2 linked regions of the Homo sapiens genome follow. The protein of the gene in region 2 purifies or fractionates together with the protein of the main gene of each other region. This does not show direct contact. Each region holds a gene or a part of one and is shown on either strand. Other genes may lie near its edges.

Region 1 (3,500 bases), about 17 Mb from region 2:
AATATAAAAGAAATTGTTGAAAATTGGGATTGAGGCCGGGCACAGTGGCTCACGCCTGTAATCCCAGCACTTTGGGAGGCTGAGACGGGTGGATCGCCTGAGGTCAGGAGTTCGAGACCAGGCTGGCCAACATGGTGAAACCCTGTCTCTACTAAAAATACAAAAATTAGCCAAGCATGGTGGCATGCACCTGTAATCCCAGCTTCTCAGGAGGCTGAGGCAGGAGAATTGCTTGAACCTGATAGGTGGAGGTTGCAGTAAGCTGAGATTGTGCCACTGCACTCCAGCCTGGGCAACAGAGTGAGACTCTGTCTCAAAAAAAAGAAAAAGAAAATTGGGATTGACTCCTGAAGAAAACCTGGCTCAGGAATCTGTAGGACCCACACCAGATAAAACCTCAGGTGAGCCTCAACCTGTATTGGTTACAGATCCAAGGGAGTCCCAAGCCAGAGAGCTTATGAGAAATCATAGCTAGTCCCACATTTACCCATGACTAGCATCTTTCACGCTGGTCTGGAAAGATGTTCATGGATAACCTGAGTGGGAAGACTTGTCCAGATCACAGGTGCACCGCTGTGTCCACATCATGAAAGAGGGACCCTGCTCTCGAGTGAGCATGCTGGGAAAAGTATCCTTTGAAGTGCCAACAGGGACTATGCAGCAGACGGGCCTGAAGGGCCTTGGGTGGAGTGTGGAAGAAGAGAACCTAGGGCTGGGGGCTTGGAATTAGCCTTCACATTCCAGTGTAGCCGTGCTGACAAGGCCTCCGTCAGCTAGTGTGGCTGCCACGCACAGTGCTCTGACCAGCATTCTGTCTATGCTGGAGAATCATAGACAGGCGCACTACCTGTGCCTTCCTAATAGACTGGTAGCCAAAGCCCCCCATACCTCTAACCTTTCCAGGTTTCTCACACTGGAGAGGGAATAGTGTGAACTTCCCCTTCATGTTTTCTTTTGGCTGGGGGATAGATGCCTTCTCAGGGTCTGTCCTTGATTTCGAATTTGTCTAAAATGGATCTCATCCTCACCTCATGCGTGGTCACAGTGGTCCAGGAGGTGACCAGGAACCCAGGATGCTTATGATCAGGATGCGGGGTGTTCCTTGACCTGATCAGGCCTCCTTTCCCAAGAGGTGGTATGTGGGTATCTCAAAGACTGGTCTCAGTGCCTCCCAGCCAAGGGACATGGCATTACTTTCAAGGAGGAGCATTCAAAGCTAAGAGACTGACAATAAGGCCATCTAGAAGCTGCTGCATAAATAATCTTGGTCCTAGGGGGAATGCAGCAGCCTCCTGCTCCCCCTCACTCAGACAGGAAGCTATGGCTGAGAACTCCCTGTATCTCTGATTGAGCACTGGGTTCTACCTAAGGTGTTTTTTTTTTTTTTTTTTTTTTTTTTTTTTATTGATCATTCTTGGGTGTTTCTCGCAGAGGGGGATTTGGCAGGGTCATAGGACAATAGTGGAGGGAATGTCAGCAGATAAACAAGTGAACAAAGGTCTCTGGTTTTCCTAGGCAGAGGACCCTGTGGCCTTCCGCAGCGTTTGTGTCCCTGGGTACTTAAGATCAGGGAGTGGTGATGACTCTTAACGAGCATGCTGCCTTCAAGCATCTGTTTAACAAAGCACATCTTGCACCGCCCTTAATCCATTTAACCCTGAGTGGACACAGCACATGTTTCAGAGAGCACAGGGTTGGGGGTAAGGTCGCAGATCAACAGGATCCCAAGGCAGAAGAATTTTTCTTAGTACAGAACAAAATGAAAAGTCTCCCATGTCTACTTCTCTCTACACAGACACAGCAACCATCCGATTTCTCAATCTTTTCCCCACCTTTCCCGCCTTTCTATTCCACAAAACCGCCATTGTCATCATGGCCCGTTCTCAATGAGCTGTTGGGTACACCTCCCAGAGGGGGTCGTGGCCGGGCAGAGGGGCTCCTCACTTCCCAGTAGGGGCGGCCAGGCAGAAGCGCCCCTCACCTCCCGGATGGGGCGGCTGGCCGGGTGGGGGGCTGACCCCCACCTCCCTCCCGGACGGGGTGGCTGCCGGGCGGAGACGCTCCTCACTTCCCAGACGGGGTGGCTGCCGGACGGAGGGGCTCCTCACTTCTCAGACGGGGCGGCTGCCAGGCAGAGGGTCTCCTCACTTCTCAGACGGGGCGGCCGGGCAGAGACGCTCCTCACCTCCCAGACAGGGTCGCGGCCAGGCAGAGGCGCTCCTCACATCCCAGACGGGGCGGCGGGGCAGAGGCGCTCCCCACATCCCAGACTATGGGCGGCCGGGCAGAGACGCTCCTCACTTCCTAGATGGGATGGCAGCGGGGAAGAGGTGCTCCTCACCTCCTAGATGGGATGGCGGCCAGGCAGAGACGCTCCTCACTTCCCAGACGGTGTGGCGGCCGGGCAGAGGCTGCAATCTCAGCTCTTTGGGAGGCCAAGGCAGGCGGCTGGGAGGTGGTTGTAGCTAGCCGAGATCACGCCACTGCACTCCAGCCTGGGCACCATTGAGCACTGAGTGAACCAGACTCCGTCTGCAATCCCGGCACCTCGGGAGGCCGAGGCTGGCGGATCACTCGCGGTTAGGAGCTGGAGACCAGCCCGGCCAACACAGCGAAACCCGTCTCCACCAAAAAAATACGAAAACCAGTCAGGCGTGGCGGCGCGCGCCTGCAATTGCAGGCAGTCGGCAGGCTGAGGCAGGAGAATCAGGCAGGGAGGTTGCAGTGAGCCGAGATGGCAGCAGTACAGTCCAGCTTTGGCTCGGCATCAGAGGGAGACCGTGGAAAGAGAGGGAGAGGGAGACCGTGGGGAGGGGGAGTGGGAGAGGTAGAGGGAGAGGGAGAGGGAGAGCTACCTAAGGTGTTTTCTGATCTTTAGTGACCAAATCTCTGTCCTTAAGGTGCCCAAATTGCTGTCTGCTCTCTGTCCAGAAGAACCACCAGTCCATTCGTCAGCCCAGATTGTCAGCAAACACCTGGTAAGTGCTAGTGTGGCCAGGACGGGCATGAGATGTTCTTTGGGAGCATCGAGACTTGTTTTTGAGAAGCCGGATTGAGGCCTTTAAGTCCTGAACCTCATCAGCCCCAGGGAAATCACAGTGGGTTCTGAGAATAAAATCTCACTCAACAAGACTGCCTGGGCAAGTAATGACCTTGTAAGGAAGGGTCCATTATAGTGTTGGGACTCAGACACAGGAGCTCTCAATCTCAGCCTGAAAGACTCTAGTCATGGGTAAATGTGGGACTACCTATGATTCTCATAAGCTCTCTGGCTTGGGACTCCCTTGGATCTGTAACCAATCCAGGTAGAGGCTCACCTGAGGTTTTATCTGGTATGGGTCCTACAGATTCCTGAGCCAAGTTTTCTTCAGGAGTCAGTCCCAATTTTCTTTTTCTTTTTTTTTGAGACAGAGTCTCACTCTGTTGCCCAGGCTGGAGTGCAGTGGCACAATCTGTCCCCCTTCTAACTCTGATTTGAGCACACTCTTTAAGAGAGCACA
Region 2 (3,012 bases):
GCTCACTGCAACCTCCACCTCCCGGGTTCAAGTGATTCTCCTGCCTCAGCCTCCCAAGTAGCTGGGATTACAGGCGCCTGCCACCACGCCCAGCTAATTTTTGTATTTTTAGTAGAGACAGGGTTTCATAATGTTGGCCAGGCTGGTCTCGAACTCCTGACATCAGGAGATCCACCCACCTCAGCCCAGCCTCCTGAGTAGCTGGGACTACAGGCATACAACACCACACCCAGCTGATTTTTTGTGTTTTTGTACAGACAGGGGTTGCACCATGTTGGCCAGGCTGGTCTTGAACTCCTGACCTCAGGCGATCCGCCCACCTTGGCCTCCCAAAGTGCTGGGATTACAGGCGTAAGCCATCATGCCTGGGCAGACAGTTATATTTTAAAATGGAATAAAAGAAGAGAAACAGAACTGCCATTGATTGTATTGACTATCAGGTGCTATTTATTGTAAAAACACACCATTATTTTATGTAGGAAAAAACACTGCATGGTCAGGGGTGGTGGCTCTCGCCTGTAATCCCAGCACTTTGGGAGGCCAAGGCTGGCAGATTCCTTGAGCTCAGGAGTTCGAGAACAGCATGGGCAACATAGCAAAACCCCTTCCCTACAAAAAATACAAAAATTAGCTAGGTGTGGTGTCACACGCATACCTGTAGTCCCAGCTACTCAGGAGGCTGAGGTGGGAAGATTGCTTGAGCCCAAGAGGTTGAGGTTGCAGTGAGCTGTGATCGCACCACTGCACTCTAGCCTGGGTGACAGAGCAAGACCTTGTCTATAAAAAGCAAAAAACAAAGAAAAGAAGAGAAAAAAGGAAGAGAAATGTATTTCTCATAGTTCTGGAGGATGTTCATGATCAAGGCACCAGCAGGTTTAGTGTCTGATGCCTGGTTATCTGCTTCCAAGATGGCACCTTGAAAGCTGTGACCTCACATGGCAAAAGGGATGGAAAGACAAAAAGGGCAATATTAAGTGCTTTCTTCAACCTTGAGCCCCTTTTTAAAGAATTATTATTTTTTTTTTTTGTGTGAGACAGAGTCTCACTTTGTCACCCAGGCAGGAGTGCAGTGGCACAATCACAGCTCACTTCAGCCTTGACCTCCCTGGGCAACCCGGAGCCCTTTTCTAAGTGTGCTAATCCCATTCCACCCTCTGACTTAATCACCTTCCACAGGCCACACCTCTGCACTGGGGATTAAGATTCAACATGAGGCCGGGCACAGTGACTCATGCCTGTAATCCCAGCACTTTGGGAGGCCGAGGTGGGCAGATCACCTGAGGTTGGGAGTTTGAGACCAGCCTGAACAACATGGAGAAACCCCATCTCCACTAAAAATACAAACTAGCCAGGCATGGTGGTGCATGCCTGTAATCCCAGCTACTTGGGAGGCTGAGGCAGGAGAATCGCTTGAACCCGGGAGGCGGAGGTTGCGGTGAGCTGAGATCACGCCACTGCACTCCAGCCTGGGCAGCAAGAGTGAAACTCCATCTGAAAAAAAAAAAAAGATTCAACATGAACTTCTGAGGGGACATCATCATTCTAACCATGGCAAGGAGTCTTGGAACTGATGAAATGGAACAGTCCCTTCTTGTCCCTTTATTAACCAGAATTTTTGTGTGGTCTTCCAGGCACCACCAGGACCAGCTGATCATTCCAGCCCACAGCAATGGAGCCACATGACTCCTCCCACATGGACTCTGAGTTCCGATACACTCTCTTCCCGATTGTTTACAGCATCATCTTTGTGCTCGGGGTCATTGCTAATGGCTACGTGCTGTGGGTCTTTGCCCGCCTGTACCCTTGCAAGAAATTCAATGAGATAAAGATCTTCATGGTGAACCTCACCATGGCGGACATGCTCTTCTTGATCACCCTGCCACTTTGGATTGTCTACTACCAAAACCAGGGCAACTGGATACTCCCCAAATTCCTGTGCAACGTGGCTGGCTGCCTTTTCTTCATCAACACCTACTGCTCTGTGGCCTTCCTGGGCGTCATCACTTATAACCGCTTCCAGGCAGTAACTCGGCCCATCAAGACTGCTCAGGCCAACACCCGCAAGCGTGGCATCTCTTTGTCCTTGGTCATCTGGGTGGCCATTGTGGGAGCTGCATCCTACTTCCTCATCCTGGACTCCACCAACACAGTGCCCGACAGTGCTGGCTCAGGCAACGTCACTCGCTGCTTTGAGCATTACGAGAAGGGCAGCGTGCCAGTCCTCATCATCCACATCTTCATCGTGTTCAGCTTCTTCCTGGTCTTCCTCATCATCCTCTTCTGCAACCTGGTCATCATCCGTACCTTGCTCATGCAGCCGGTGCAGCAGCAGCGCAACGCTGAAGTCAAGCGCCGGGCGCTGTGGATGGTGTGCACGGTCTTGGCGGTGTTCATCATCTGCTTCGTGCCCCACCACGTGGTGCAGCTGCCCTGGACCCTTGCTGAGCTGGGCTTCCAGGACAGCAAATTCCACCAGGCCATTAATGATGCACATCAGGTCACCCTCTGCCTCCTTAGCACCAACTGTGTCTTAGACCCTGTTATCTACTGTTTCCTCACCAAGAAGTTCCGCAAGCACCTCACCGAAAAGTTCTACAGCATGCGCAGTAGCCGGAAATGCTCCCGGGCCACCACGGATACGGTCACTGAAGTGGTTGTGCCATTCAACCAGATCCCTGGCAATTCCCTCAAAAATTAGTCCCTGCTTCCAGGCCTGAAGTCTTCTCCTCCATGAACATCATGGACTGAGCTGGGGGAAGAAGGGATATCTACTGTGGTCTGGGCACCACCTCTGTGGGCACTGGTGGGCCATTAGATTTGGAGGCTACCTCACCTGGGCAGGGATGATGGCAGAGCCAGGCTGTTGGAAAATCCAGAACTCAAATGAGCCCCTTCATCCGCCTGTGGGCGCATACTACAGTAACTGTGACTGATGACTTTATCCTGAGTCCCTTAATCTTATGGGGCCGGAAGGAATGTCAGGGCCAGGTGCAGACCTTGGGGGAAGACTTT

Evidence for each region. The genes of interacting proteins can lie anywhere in the genome.
Region 1: the proteins of PTAFR (region 2) and EIF2B3 purify together in Homo sapiens (affinity purification with mass spectrometry; one large-scale study listed by BioGRID and IntAct). This does not show direct contact.

What each region holds. Positions count from the first base shown.
Region 1 is NC_000001.11:44,875,096-44,878,595, reverse strand, and holds part of EIF2B3 (translation initiation factor eIF2B subunit gamma), read left to right. Parts: intron 1-2,900; coding exon 2,901-2,978; intron 2,979-3,500. UniProt on the Homo sapiens protein: Acts as a component of the translation initiation factor 2B (eIF2B) complex, which catalyzes the exchange of GDP for GTP on the eukaryotic initiation factor 2 (eIF2) complex gamma subunit.
Region 2 is NC_000001.11:28,149,679-28,152,690, reverse strand, and holds part of PTAFR (platelet-activating factor receptor), read left to right. Parts: intron 1-1,631; 5' UTR 1,632-1,669; coding exon 1,670-2,698; 3' UTR 2,699-3,012. UniProt on the Homo sapiens protein: Receptor for platelet activating factor, a chemotactic phospholipid mediator that possesses potent inflammatory, smooth-muscle contractile and hypotensive activity.